Linked DNA regions of Homo sapiens: all the other regions are linked to region 1. Evidence: fine-mapped expression QTL. A gene starts in region 1. Each other region holds a variant in brackets. All regions are shown on one strand. Distances are between the middles of the regions.

Evidence for each region. PIP is the estimated chance that this variant, and not a neighbour inherited with it, causes the effect.
Region 2: its variant is the best candidate, but not a certain one, in a credible set for the expression of TANC2 in whole blood (Lepik 2017, PIP 0.56).
Region 3: its variant is the best candidate, but not a certain one, in a credible set for the expression of TANC2 in whole blood (INTERVAL, PIP 0.79).

What each region holds. Positions count from the first base shown.
Region 1 is chr17:62,964,078-62,969,306 of GRCh38, reverse strand. It overlaps TANC2 (tetratricopeptide repeat, ankyrin repeat and coiled-coil containing 2), which reads right to left and starts at 3,072. Exons shown (of 28, transcript NM_001394998.1): 1 at 2,558-3,072. RefSeq lists a silencer at 2,996-3,185.
Region 2 is chr17:62,998,974-63,004,202 of GRCh38, reverse strand. The region is part of intron 1 of TANC2 (tetratricopeptide repeat, ankyrin repeat and coiled-coil containing 2); the gene reads right to left. Among named protein-coding and RNA genes, the nearest start is that of TANC2, 35 kb to the right of the region's middle. The variant G/C (reference allele first, on the strand shown) is at 2,594.
Region 3 is chr17:63,355,259-63,360,487 of GRCh38, reverse strand. It overlaps TANC2 (tetratricopeptide repeat, ankyrin repeat and coiled-coil containing 2), which reads right to left. Exons shown (of 28, transcript NM_001394998.1): 14 at 5,098-5,229. Among named protein-coding and RNA genes, the nearest start is that of CYB561, 88 kb to the left of the region's middle. The variant TCTCA/A (reference allele first, on the strand shown) is at 2,132.

The DNA.
Region 1 (5,229 bases):
TAGTATTGGGCAAGTTATTTAACCTCTCTGTGTTTCAGATTCTCATCTGTAAAACAGAAATAACAACACATACCTCATAGGGTGTTGGAACTGATTAAAACAACGTACAACGGGACTGGCAAAGAATAGGTGCTACATAAATGTGAGCTGTTACTACTAGTACAGCTGGCCCTTGAACAACATGGGCTTAAACTGTGCTGGTCTACTCCTATGCAGATTTTTTTCAAGCAATACAGTATTCATGGGATGCAAAAACCGAGTATATTGAGGGCCGACTTTTCCCTATACATGGTTCCATACACCAACTGCGGGATTTGAGCATGCAAGGATTTTGGCATATGTGGGGGTCCTGGAACCAATCCCCTGCATACAATAAGGGAAGAATGTAGTAGTAATTGTATTGCACCCTCTTCCTGAAAGTACCAAAAACATTCTTAAGCAATCTGAATTCCTAACATCAAATGCTACCTATATTTAAAATAGACACCAAATCTGAGGCCTGATTAACAGTAAGTTTAAAGCCCTTCAACTCTGAAGAAAATAGGTGATTCACAGATCTACATAATACTCTATCAAGAACAATCTGAGAGGACTGGTTCCCCGAGCGCAACTATCAATTTCTTCCCTTACACAAGGGGGCAGTGATAACAAGAAAAGAATCGGGCTCTGTAACACCTCTTCCTACAGACAGTAGGGGGTGGCAGTACATATGGCTTACAGTCAGAACAAAACAGGAAGACCCAACAGAATTCTCTTTATTCTCCTCTGGCCCTTTCCTCTGTTCTTCAGCCCCAACAGCTTCTCAAGGTAAGGGACATATCTACAGAAAAGACTAAAACCCAAAATCAATCACCAAGGAAAATCTATTTTTGTCTTTGAAGCAAATGATCCCTCAATGGCTGAATTTGGATCTAAGGGAAAGCCAATCAGTATGAATTTTCAGATTATCTGGCAAATTACTATAATGAGAACAGCATTCACACATGTAATTTAATTTCTTTACAAGAATTATAACATAAAACATTAAAATCTCATCAATAATTAAGTACATTCTAACGAACACATTTCCATATTTCTGCTTTTGTTATATAGTATATTCACACTCATTGTATGTATACATATAAGTTACATTAAATAGATCATGGAGTTGTCTTTTGTTACTTCTGAAATTCCAGCTATGTTCTGACAATCCTCTCGAAACAGATGTTCTTAAATGGAAGTCACAATGTTTTGCAGCATGTTGGTAATTTCTTATGTATGTATAATATACATGCACATATATCTATATAGAGACATAAATAAATATCTAGATACAGAGGGGAGCAAGAGAGAGGGAGAAAGAGAATGTTTAACGTTTTATTTCGTGCTCACATCCCTAAGAGGATCTACCTGGGAAATGCTGCAAGAAGCACTCCACTGACAGTATCCATGTTGTTGCTTTTTATGCCAATTTACTGTATTCTTTTTTTTTTTTATTTCACCATCCCAACACCAAGAACATACAAGAATATTTTAGTACTGCCGTTCTCTATAATTAACCATTGTGATAGATACTGGCTCCAACCCCTCAAAATGCCTGAAAATCTATCCCTTTTGTTCACCACACTGCTTTGTTTTCCTCATTACAGATATTTTCACCTGTGTAAAAATCAGGAAAAGGGCACATACGAAAAATACTTCCCTTTGCCTAATGATCTTTAACTCATAATTATGGTCAAGACGTTTGGGGTTTTGTTTGTTTCTTTTCCTGGAGAGGAGCAGAGAAGAGAGTGAAAGACACCCGAAACACCAAATCTTCTTCCTAATGTTAATTATCATTGTTTATGTTTTGTGAAGACCATTCTAAACATTCCACACCTGGAAATGAAGACTGGATACAATTGTACCAATGCTCTACACGCTGATGGCAAAACCTGGAATTATTTTAGCCCTATTTTTTCTTTCCAATCTCACAGCCAGACACAATTTGCTTTTTTTCTTTCACGTGGTTACTTTCTCTACCTCAAAAAAAATAGCTTATCATAGCTCCTCCCGATTTCCTATGGCAAAATATCTAGCAATGAGCCTTATTAATCTTTTATTATGCTACACCTCCTTTCCCAGAGGAATTATTAATATCGCTAATAACACTTCGACCATGAATTTCAACGCCACAGAGGCCAGCCCATCCTGTGCCTTACCTGGCACATTTCGCAACTACTTTTATGCTGCATTCTGGGGGCACATTTTGCAACTCGTTCTGCACCACATTCCCTGCCACGTTTAGCAATCCGCCTCGCATCTTATCCTTGGTCCCCGTCATCCAGAGACGCTCTAGGTACCAAATTCCATGACATCTTCGGTGACAGCCAAGTGGCGACCCCACACGCCTCTGAAGCCCGCCTTGGTGTCATATTCGGAGCCAGCCTTCCCCACGCCTTGGACACCGAGGCACTTCGCTGCCCATTTCGCCGTCTCCCCGCTCGCCCCCGCCCCTCTCCCCGGAGCCGAGGCTGTGGAGGCGAACGACCCTGTCACTGAAGCGACCTTTCCTCGCCCTGCTCCCCGGGCCCCTTACCTGCCGCTCTGAGGGGCTCTCTGCACCTCCGGGTCAAGCCCCAGTCCCCGGGGTCTCCTGTGAGGACCGCGCCGCCCGCCGGCGCCGCCCGCGATTCCCGGAGCACCTCGCAGTCCTCCAACGCCCCGCGGCGAGTCTGCACCCCGGAACGGCGCGGCGGGGCCTCGCAGCCGGCGAGCGCAGCCCGCGGCGGTGCTCCTGTCAGCGGCGGCTCGGGGGCCAGCTCTCGCCCCTCGGCTCGGCTCGGCGGCGGCGGGCGCCTCGCTCCGCCTAGCGCGCGGCACAGCCGGGAGGTGAGCGCGAGGGGGATGGGAATGGGGGCGGGGCCGCCCGAAGGAGGCGCGGAGGGCGGTGGCGGCGGGAGGGCAGCGCCAGCGGCCCTAGGCCGGGCGCTCGGAGCGCTCGCAGCTTCCCCCGCCGGGCGGGCGGCTCGCGCGAGGCGGCTGTGCCAGCGGGCCCCGCCGGAGCAGCGCGCCCAGCAACCCGCGCCCCGCCGGCCGCTCGCTAGCGCCGCCGCCGCGCTGGGGGCGTCGCACCCTCTGAGGCCGCCCGCAGCCCCGCCCCCTCCGGGCTGGGGTGGGGAGGGGCGCGAGCGCGGAGGGAGCGCGCGTGCGTGGGGGCGCGTGCGTGGTGGAGCGCGCGCGCCCCCGCCCCTTCCACAGTTTGGGGGTGGGGAACGGCTGGAAGAGGGAGTGGGGACGCAGCCCTCCTCCGCGCGGAGAGACGGGGCCCTGGCTCTGGCGCTCTGGGATGTCCTGGCATTTCTCGTATCCCCGGGGGGCTCGGACTTGTGGGTGGCATTTGGAGGGGCAGCAGGGAGGACGCTCGGTAACTGACAAGGCCCTACATAGTTGGGCTCCGCCCTCAGGGGTGATGTCACTCTCGAGGTGGCTGCTGCTGTCACGTGCGCCCATTTCAGGGCCTGTCCTCCTGCTTTGATGACCGGAATGCTCTCCTAGATCTCCCCCACTTCGGTCACCTCAGGCACATATCACTCTGAGAGTCCTCGAAGCCTACAAGTGTCAGTTATTCTTTCCCGGATTCTCAGTGGTAGTTTGTAGACGACTTCAAAAGGCCACGGTTGGCTGTGGGGAGAATCAGAATGAGAAAGAAAAACAAAACAACAGTGGGGTTTGTGGGGAGACCGAGACTGTTATTTAGAATAATGGCTGAAAATTCACCAACCACAGCTTGCAAACCTGAGGTAAAGTCGTGGCGCTGCTTCTGTCACTGCCAGGTTGACTAAGAAGTAGCGTGGTTTTAAGAGCTGGTCGACAAGGGCGGGAAAGCCACCACATTAATACCTCGTCGAACGATGTTAGGTCATATTTCACCCTCCACCTAGATCTTCTTCCCCTCTACTGTTTCCCTCCTATCATAAAACAGCAAGTCGGCTGTGGGAGGTATTTGGGACATAAACATCATCGCGTGCTGCAAGATGATGCGAAGCAATCACCGTTACCAACTCTGCCCGGCTCGCCTTCCCTTCCATAAACTGAGATGACCTTTCGTGGTCATCCAACTTCTTAATCAGATGACATGATTGGAAATAGATGCGCCAAATTACATCAATCAAGGAAGCTCTGTCTGTGGCGCTTCCAAGGTAGAGAGGTTTGTTTGATAACAGCACTTTAATCTGCCCCATCCTGTAGCACTTCATCCAGGAGTTTCTTCGATTTTCAAAAATTAGTATTAATTTCAGAACAATACAAGAAACTGGATATGAACATGTCCATCCAACAGCTCTTCTTTACAGTGAATGCTTGCAAAGTCAGAGCTAGAGCAGCTTTGAATAATACAGCTAACATGGCAAGGTGAAGGGCTGACATATGGAATCTTTTGGTGTTAACTCCAGAAAGTTAGATTAATCTAATGAAAACCCATCTACCTATGGTATTAGAGGCAAGGTAGTGATTACTTACAGGGGAATTGATTGAGAGGGGACAGGAGAGAGCCTTCTGGTTTGCTGGAAATATTCAATATCTTAATGGTTACCCGGGTGTATACATATGCAAAAAGATCTGTGCACTTCATGTCAGTTTTTTAAAATCACATACACACAAAGAAGCATTACAATGTCATCATCACTGCAGTCGGAAAACCTCAGTTTGAATCTCAGTGTCACCCAACACTTACCTGCTGTGTGACCTTGAACAGGTCTCCGGACCTTCCTTTCTTCATCTGTCTAACGTGGGTGATATTAATACTTACCTCACAGATGGATGTAAAGATGAAACAAAATTTTGGAAAATACTTAGCACAAATCCTGTTACACAATAAGGACTCAGGAAACAGGAGCTATTATGTTATCCTTCTTACACTTGAATTTACCCTATTTAATTCTCCTTCGGTCTTTTTTTTTTTTTTTTTTAAGATTACTTTCTATCTAAGCCTTTCCCTGCGAGTTCCACTGAGGCTAATAACATTCCTTCTCTGAGAAATAACAAAAGGCAGTCAGGGGTGTAATGTTGGTTTTCAAACTAGTTCAGGTGGCAGTCTCTAGAAATTATGGTGCTCAACGTGGAGCATCATGAAATACAGATAGATTTAACTCTGCCATATGGAATTGACACAATTTTACAAGCACTAAATCTGGCAATTTTATGGTTATGCAAATCTCCACATAATCACATAATAAAAAAATGGGGGCTTTTTGTTGTTGTTGTTGTTCT
Region 2 (5,229 bases), 35 kb before region 1:
ATCTTCAGATAAATTTTGCCATTTTCATTTCGCTACCTGAAAGTCAGGGCTGGCTCATGAAAAGTTGTTAAACAACAGCTAAATGTGAAATGTCAACCCTCCCTCTAAACTTTCCCTGTTCTGAGCATCAAATGAAGACTTCATGGGTTTTATAGTGGCTTTCTGATTTTTGGTGGTCCATCAAAGAAGGAGTCTGAAAGTTGTTGTACACTGTTAATGATTGTCTGCCCATGTCCTGCCTGAAATACCATGACTGTTTCTGGGAAGTATCTTCAAGAAAGCAGAGTACAGTTTGAAAAAAAACAAACAAATTAAAAAACAGACTGTCTCACTATTTACAGGTAGACAAAGGATTCTTAGGAACATAGAAAGCAACAGCCACTTAAAAAAACATATATTTGGAGGTTATTAAAAATTTAAAAACATCTGCTAAGATAACATTAAAGAAAACAGGCAAGCCACAAACTGGGAAAAATTATTCACAAAACATATATAACACAGGACTTACATCCAAGATACAGTAGTCCCCCTTTATCTGCAGTTTTGCTTTCCATGGTTTCGGTTACCTGCAGTCTAAAAATATTACATGGAAAACTGCAGAAATAATTCATGTTTTAAATTACACACCATTCTAAGTAGCCTGATGAAATCTCACACCATCCTGCTCCATCCTGCCTGGGAGGTAAAACATCCCTTTGTCTAGTTTATCCAAGCTGTATATGCCACCTGACCACTGGTCAATTAGCAGCCACCCTGGTTATCAGATCAGTTACTGCATATAGCGTGTACAGGATTTGGTACTGTCATTTCAGGCATCCACTGTGGGGTGTGTCTTGGAATGTGGATACGGAGGGACTACTGTATATAAAGAACACCTACAACTCAGTAATAAAGAGACAATCGATTTTCAAATGGGTAAAAGATTTGAACAGGTAGTTTCAAAAAGTAGATATATAAATGACCCACACCCAAATTATAAGGGCTCAACATTATATGTCATTGCAGAAATACAAATTATAATTAGCTATCCACTATACTCCCACCAGAAGAGCTAACTTTAAAAAGTTTGACAATATCAAATATTGATCACAATGAAGAGTAATTTAAATTCCAACACACTATTTTAGGAGTATAAAATGGTACAATGGCTTTGGAGAAAAATATAGCTGTTTATTATGAAACTTACTGTACACCTAATGCATGACTCCACCTCTACTATTTACCCAAGAGAAATTAAAACATATATGCATAATGAAAAGACTAGTACAACAATTTTCATAACAGATTTATAATACCCTATACCTAGACTAGGTGTCCATCAACAGACGAATAAACTATGGGATATTCACAAAGAGGAATATTACTCAGCAAGAAAAAGGAATGAACTACTCATACAGTCAACACAGATAAATCACAACATATAATATGCCAAGTGAAAGAACCTTTACATAGAAGCATATGCATTGCATTATTACATTTATACCAACTTCAAGAATAATCTATGCCAAAAAAATCAGAATAATGGTTGTCTCTTGGGGGTAGATATGGGGATCAACTTAGAAATGGCACGAGGAACCTTTCTAGGATGATGGTAATATTCTATATGTTTTGAAGATGATTACTTTTTTCAAATGAAAAATGTAAACAAATGCTAAAATCCACTTAATGATATTCATGCTTAAATAGGAGAAAGCATATAGATGTCTGCAGATTATTACTTTGAAATGCATCAAAAAATAAGGTGGATTGATGGACTGATGGAGGCATAGAGAGGCAGATATGTGATGAATTATAACAAAATAAAATGTTAACAGTAAACTGTAAGTAGTGGATATACATGCGATAACTAAAACTATTTAAAATGTAAATAACTGAGCTGTTAATGGCTTGGAGATGCTCCCCCACTTCTCCAGAGAACTGCCTTTGGCTAACTGGCACCATCTTGCCCAGAAAGCTTCATGCCTTACTACTTCTACCCTAGAGAGGTTCTCAGTCAATGACTAATTATTAATCATTGAGATACAAAAGACCAGCTTCCTTAATTCCAGGGGAGGGCAACTCTGTGGTATGATTTATGCTCCAAAACCGTCACCCATAACTTCTTATGTGTTCTTCCCCAAATACTTACCTCCAAAAGACATCTTATATACCTGATTGTCTTATCAGTTTCCCTACTAGAATATAAGCTCCAGGAGGGAAGAGAAGATGCCTGTTTAATTCATTGCTACAGCCCTGTAAATGGAAAATAATACTTGATACACAGGAAGTGCTAAATATTTGCTGAATTTATCAATTACATATTTTTGTTTGTATACCATTGTCCATATCAAATCCCTTATAAAGAAATCTGGTCTTGACCAGGCGCAGTGGCTTATACCTGTAATCTCAACACTTTGGGAGGTAGAGGCGGGCAGATCACTTGAGGTCAGCAGTTCAAGACCAGCCTGGCCAATGTGGTGAAACCCTGTCTCTACTAAAAAATACAAAAAAGTTAGCCGGGCATGCTGGCATGCACCTGTAGTCCCAGCTACTTGGGAGTCTGAAGCAGGAGAATCGCTTGAACCCGGATGGCAAAGGGTGCAGCGAGCTGCCA[G/C]AGGACTCCAGCCTGGGCAACAGAGGGAGACTCCATCTTGGAAAAAAAAAAAGAAAGAAAGAAAAAGAAAAAAAAAAAAGAAAAGAAAAGAAAAACGAAAAGGAAACCTGGTCTTATTAATCTTTTTAACCACAACACCTAGTTCATGGTAGGCTCTCAACATTTCTTGAATGAGTAAATAAACTGAGCAAAGACACAATTCATCAGATTTACTGACTTAGTAAAGAAGGGGCATAATAAAAGTAAGTTTCATTGAGCGAGAAATGATTTTAAATCAACCAGAACAATGAGGACTACCTAGAATGAATGTGTACCAGGGAATCAAGAAAAGGCATGAAAATTGTAGGAATAGTTCAAAATTTTATCTGAGGGAAAACCAAGAATATTCTAGGCTTACTTAGAACTTCTAACTCAAACTCTGATTATTTACACATAGTTGTTCAAAGTTTTGAAAGGAAAAAAATGAGTGCAGATTATCATTATCATAAAAACAGCAACTTATTACTTAAAATTTACTAAGAGTCAAAAAAAGACCAGGAGAACATACTTAAGTTGATTTAGGTAAAATATTTTGGTGGGTGGCATAAATTATAGTGATGGCTACTTCTTGAAGATATAGAGGGTTTTTTTTTTTTTTTTTTGCTAGTTCTAAAACTTTTTTAATTACTTCAATATATAGAAAAGTAAAACATAAAGCTACTCATCTCATAGTTACATTTTGATTAAATGATTTTCCTCAAGTTAACATACCAATAGAAAACTGATCATAATAAAATATTAATATAGAAATTCCACAAATTGAAGCTAAGTGGGAGAAGGCAGTTTGGTCTAATTGACACTAATGTAAATCTAAATTTTACCCTGCTTTTCCAAATTTTGCATCCAAATTTTAAGATGTTCACTCTCTCAGGAGGAATCATCAGATACATCCCTGGCAAGTGAAATATCTGGACAGGAAAATAACAAGCCATTGACAGGCCCCCAATCATTTCTAATTTTCTTACACTTAGCTGATTTGAACATTATGTTATCTACATGGTCCCTAAGCTTTTATGTTTGTGACACTCATTCTAAACCATTCAGGAGAAGTAATGACTTCTTAATGGTCCACTAAGGCTGGAGACTCAACAACCTATTTCAATGTCTTCTTCTGCTATATTATTAACAGGCAATCAATTTTCATTTTCAATGTTCATCCCTCCTGTATATTTAAAGCCCTTTTCTTATCCTGTTGTTTAAAAAAAGTAAAACATCCCATGCATAAAAATGTTTATGTAATTAATAATGTAATCAAATTAACTATTAAGTACTTCTGTACTATTTTGATGATCATGACATCCTGTTAATATTTCCATTCTAATGCCAGCTTTTTATTTTAACTTATTGTAGATTCAAGGGGACATGGGCAGATTTGTTTTCTTGGTAAAATGCGTGTGACAGGGTTTGGCGTACAGATTTTGTCACTCAGGTAATAAACACAGTATCTAATAGGTAATTTTTTGATCCTCACCTTCCACACCCCTCCATCCTCAAGTAGGCCCTGGTGTGTGTTCTTCCTTTCTTTGTGTCCATGCGTGCTCAGTGTTTAGCTCCCACTTGTCAGAACATAAAGTAATTGTTTTCTGTTCCTGCATTAGTGTGCTTAGGATAATGGCCTCCAGCTCCTCTGTCCATGTTGCTGCAAAGGACATGATCTCATTCTTTTATGCCTGCATAGTATTACATGGTGCATATATACATTTTCTTTATCCAGTCTACCGCTGATGAGCATTTAGGTTGATTTCATGATGTTGCTATTGTGAACAGAGCTATGATGAACATCCAAGCACATGCGTTTTTGGTAGAACAATTTACATTGCTTTGGGCATATACCAGGGATGTCCAATCTTTTGGCTTTCCCGGGCCACAGTGGAAGAAGAATTATCTTAGGCCACACATAAAACACATTGATGCTAATAATAGTTGATTAGCTAAAAAAAAAAAAGTTACAAAAAAAATCTCATAATGTTTTAAGAAAGCTTACAAATTTGTGTTGGTTATCTAAGTCTCTAAGTAATTTGTTTTATGAATTTGGGTGCCCCTGTGTTGGGTGCACATACGTTTAAAATAGTTAGGTCTTCCTGTTGAACTGAATCCTTTGCCATTATGTAATGCCTTTTTGTCTCTTTTGACCATTGTTGGTTTAAAGTCTGTGTATTAGGCTGTTCTTGCACTACTATAAATACCTGAGTCTAGGTAATTTATAAGAAAAGAGGTTTAATTGGCTTGCAGTTCTGCAGGCTGTACAGGAAGCACAGCTCCACCACCTGCTTCTGGGGAGGCCTCAGGAAGCTTTTACTCATGGCAGGTGAAGCAGGAGCAGCCACATGAAGTGGCCAGAGCAGGAGTGAGAGACAGTGTGTGTTGGGGGGAGGTGCCACAGACTTTCAAATGACCACATCTCTCAAGAGCTGACTCACTACTGTAAAGGTAGCACCAAGACATGAGGGATCTGCTCCCATGACCCAAATACCTCCCACAAGGCCCTGCCGCACTTCCAGCATTGGGGATTACCATTTAACATGAAATTTGGGCAGGGGCAAATATCCAAACTATATCAGTCTGCTTTGTCTGAAATTAGAATAGGAATCCCTGCT
Region 3 (5,229 bases), 390 kb before region 1:
AATTAAAAAAAAATTGAAAGTGTGAATAAAAGATGTCTGGTACATTCTCTTTTCTCTGCTTTAACTCTTCCAAGCCTCCTAAGGGTTGATTTAGTTCTAAGAGGCCCTTTTTCCTTCCCATGCTTCATCATTTTGCTGAATTCTCTCCTAATGCTTTGAGAAAGCAGAACCCATCCTCCAGTTTAAGGGTCTGCTCTGGGAGCCTGCAATGGCTATCAGGAGCAGTGACCTCAAGTTTGTGCTTCAGTGAGGGTAAGGTTAATTGTCATCTTGCCTGGAGGCTCATATTTAGATTTAAAAAACAAAATCAACACAAACTTCAACTCACCATTTATTTTGTAGTCATTTCAACCCCATCTATTCTATAAGAAGCCCTGTTATACAGACCTCTGGCACAGTTATTTTTCACTTTGGGGAGGACACCCTCTCTTTTTCCTTAGACAAACTGCTTGTTCTCTGACACCCTGCTTTGTGGCAATGGATTTTGGAGCATCAGGTCTCCAACGTGTAATTCACTTACTAATATGGTCAAATAAATTAGGAAAAACCTCGACAAACCACTTATTATAAGCAATCAATTCTGGTCATAAAGAATCAAGTAAGTACTCAACTATCCCATGGTATAGGTAGGATTTGTGTCGCCTTTTCCCTTTCCATTCATCACAGGATTTGCTGTCTTTAATTTGAGGAAATCAGGTCAAACCAAATTAGGCTCCCACATCACAACCTTAGGCTCCCACATCACAATCTCATTAGGTTGTATCAACTCAACACTCATTACATGAAGTTCACAACAAGCTTCTTGTATCTTATTCAAACATTTAAAAATAAGGCTGGCTAGGCTGGGCACGGTGGCTTATGCCTGTAATCCTAGCACTTTGGGAGGCTGAGGTGGGCAGACCACCTGAGGTCAGGAGTACGAGACCAGCCTGGCCAAATTGGTGAAACTCCGTCTCTACTAAAAATACAAAAAAGTTAGCCGGGCAAGGTAGCAGGTACCTGTAATATCCCAGCTACTTGGGAGGCTGAGGCAGGAGAATTGCTTGAACTCAGGAGGCAGAGGTTGCAGTGATGTGAAATCGCATCACTGCACTCTAGCCTGGGTGACAGGACACTCTGTCTCGAAAAAAAAAAAAAAATGCTGGTGCAGTAGCTCATCCCTGTAATCCCAGCACTTTGGGAGGACAAGGTGGGTGGATGGCTTGAACCTGAGTTTGAGACCAGGAACACAGTAAGACTCTTTCTCTACAAACAAAAAAAATTAGGCATGGTGGCATGTGCCTGTGGTCACAGTTACACAGGAAGCTAAGGTAGGAGGATTGCCAGAGCCCAGGAGGTTGAGACTTCAGTGAGCCGTGACTGTGCCACTGCACTCCAGCCTGAGTGACAGAGTGAGATACTGTATTAAAAAAATAAAAACAAACCCCACAAAAATACACACATAATAACGCAGTAGTCTTTTAATCTCTGGCAAAATCTTACACACACACACACACACACACACACACACAAATATTAATCTGAGAGCCGTTCCTATGGAAGGGAAAGTTAGATATCATGAAAATTGAGAAAATGAGGAATAGAAACAGAACAGAGTGGAGATTTATTCAGGGCGAGCCTAAAGCGATATAGAAATATTAAGCAGTAACTGGACTGCACCACAAGGCTGGTAGCTCCGACTGTCTACTCTATCAGCCTTAAATTTCTACTATGAGAGTCACTAAAAGGTTGCCTAACAAAGGCCGATGACTACTTCTCTCAAATGTCTTATTTTAAATGCACAAGTTGCCTCAAATAGGTTTTCCATCTCTTTACTATTAGCATAATAGCAGGAATTCGCTTATTAAATTAGTGAGTTAATCTGATATCTCCGTGCCCAAGAGAATAAAACATAGGACAGATTAAGTTCAGGGTATGTCAGAAGGCTGACAGTGATGAACAGTGGGAAACAGAGAGCAGAATGAGGTGGTATGGTCTAAGGTTTGTGATTGCTTCAAGGGGCATATTTTACCTAAACTGCAAATCTAAAAGATTCTTCAGTGATACTCTGCTTACAGTTTGATACACACACACATACACACACACACACACACACACACACACACACATACTCTCTCTCTCTCTCTCTCTC[TCTCA/A]CTCTACTCACCTTGTTACTCATTTATTTCTATGACAATGAGACAACGATACATCTATGTAACGTTAGGTCATTCTCTCTGGTAGGTCAAGTCCTTGCCCAGATTCTGAGACAATAAGCAGTCTGGTATTCAAAATAATGAAAACTCAATCTCAGCTGTAGCATTAACCTCTGGCTCTGCTATTTCCTGCTTCCAGCACCATTCTCAGATTACTGACTCTTTTCAGCTCAGGCAGAAGCAACCTCCTTGGGTAGCCTATTTCTGGAGAAGATCAACTACTTTTTGGCAATTGAGTGCTGAAAGCCCAGGAAAATGGACTAAAAAGGGTAAGAATGTTGTGTTGCCTCTGGAAGCTCTCCTTACACCACAGAGATGTACATGTCAGGCACTGGCTTACCTGGTGTGATTTCAGAGGCACTGAATTGGTCTTCTTTGATCTACTGAAAGATGCTTTAGAGAGAAGGAGAGAAAGTGGAGAACAGAAGGAGAAACAATGTGCAAGAAGTGGAGGCTGAAGGCCACAAAGACAAACCATGCCTGGAGAGAGTCCTGCTAATCAGACCTGCCTGAAATGGAAAACAAGTGCAGCCAGCTGCTTTGAAAGACCAGCTTGGGCTTTGCCAATAGCATTAAATTCTTAGTGAATTTCCATCTCATTGACCTAGGGAGCCTTAAGCACTGAGATCAATACTTCAGTACTTTAGTAACAAGGTTGGTGCCAGCCATTGCTGGGGAGGGGGCTGAGTTCCAACTGAAATGAAATCTAAGAAAGCTTTTTTTGATAACTCCTGGTCCTGTTTACAATTTTACTCTCTGCCATTAAGTGAAATAAGATGATCTCTCAGCAGCCATGCTATTCAATCATCAGGGAACGGATTATACAGGATTTGAAGTTGGAAGTACCTGCTCCTCTTGTCCCAGTGCATCAGTCGGTTGCTGCAAAACTCCTAGTTAAAATGCGATGTTGAGAAGGCAAAGCCTGTATAGTCATGATATGGCTGTATAAAAGCCGTATTTTCTCCTCTGAGAGCCCCTGAGGATTTCATCTGTTGTAAGGATACTATTAATTCAGTGGTAGTCTGGTTGCCTTGGACCTCAGCTTTCAATCCTCTGAGATGTCCCAGGATCTAAGGTCCCAGATCAGCTAGCAAAGTTTCTCTGGGAACTGATCTCAAAGCGTTTATTAGGCAATTCTACATTAGTTTCTTTTTCCTATATACATAGTTGCCAGTTCTTTGTATTAAATATTGACAACAGCTCTAGTAGGATTTATAGTAAAATCCTTTTGGGAACATCATACAATTCACAGAAGGGACTTGGATTGTTTTTATTGTTTCTTTTTAAAATCTTGTGCTCCAAAATGATAACAGCAGAAGATGGCTGTCGCTATCCGATTAGCCACAGGATTTAACTAAGATACACCAGAAGGGTCTATTACTGCAGGGTGAGGGGAGGAAAAAGAACATACCCCAAGTGTTTCTTTTACTCTGTACTATTCTAGGCATCATACTATATGACCTCACTTAACTTCTCAACAACTCTAGAAAAAAGGCATTATTATTGCTCTTATGTAGATAAGAAAACTAAGTCTTAGAAACACTATGTAACTTTTTCCAAAGGTCAAAGTTCCTAGAAGAGGCAGGATTTATATGCAGGTAATTTGACTCAAGAGTTTATGTTCTTTCCACTACAGCATGTTTCTTTAAAAAAGCTTCCCTCTCAGAGAAAATGCTACAAAGTCTATTGCCTGGCTTAATATCTTCATCATAATCTGGAACTAATTTTCTGATGAATCAGCATGGAGTAGGCTGAGCAGCATGCCCACAGTACAGTTGTCTCTAATAAGGCCTGGTGAAGGACACGGTGAAGGGCAATAAAACCCCAGCATGAACACAGAGTTTTATTCTTTCTGATGAGTCACATGTGAGGCATAGTCAAATCTGGCCTCTTCTTTTTGAGCCAAAATAAGCTCTGCATTTGCCAGCTATGTTGTTGGTGTCTTCTTTGTTTCCATGAAGTCAGTAATGTACCCGGCTTTTGAAAACACCAACTTTATTAAAGGAATACGTCTTTAAAAATGTTAGTATGACGGAGTAAAAGCACACCCCGACCAGGATGCCAGAGAACTAGGTTTCATGCAATAAAAAGGGAAACAGTTTCATATCTAGTCTGGTTTGAGTTGAGAAAGATTCTCAAGTCAGGTTCAAGCTCATTGGGAAAGAGTGCTGGGGTAAATCAGTGATCCTGTTGTGCGTGTGGGGTGGGGAGTGGTGGGATATATCATGCACTTGTGATCCCTATTCTGGTGTGTGCCCCTCCCTTCTCCCATGTATTAACCTTATGACTTTGTGCAAGTTGATCCAGCATCTTAAGGCCTTTATAGCAAAATGGAGATAATGACACCTTACGTATCTAAAGGCAGCATGGATAGACCAGCTGATCTCTTCAAATCTTTTTCAGCTAGGAGGTTTAAGATTGTATTTTCTAGTATAAAGCTTAGCATTGGCTGGACTTTAATGGATTTAGTCACTGGAAACTTTAAAAATGATAAGGTTTTATAAAAGGGCAATAAAAACTTTGAAATGATTCTGCCCTAAATCAAAGAGATTTACAATATATCAATTCTTTCTTCATATCAGAATAATAATACTGAGGAAGTCCATTAAATGGTTAACTTAATTATAGCCTGTGAACCCTGTGGGGTCAGTGAAAATTATTTAGAAGAACACAGGAACGTAGGATAGCATTCTAAATATCTATGCAGATGTTGAGTCTTAAGGAAATAACATTGTAAAACAATAAATTAGTTAACCTCATTATAGCCTTGCCTTGAGAAGAAACACAGATGATGTCTCTTCTATGTGAAATGTTCAATGAAGAACACTTCTACTTTCAATACTCACACTCCATGCAATAAACAGAAAACAGACTCAGAATTGTTTATCACAGATATATGTCTTACCTCGGATCACAGAGAAATTTGGTTTTCTCTCCTTCTTCTCTCCAGATAAGCCATTCTCGAAAAGAAGGATGTACAAACATACGAGTCATGTCTCTGCGCTTGATTAGGAACATGGAGAGGTTCTCCATTCTC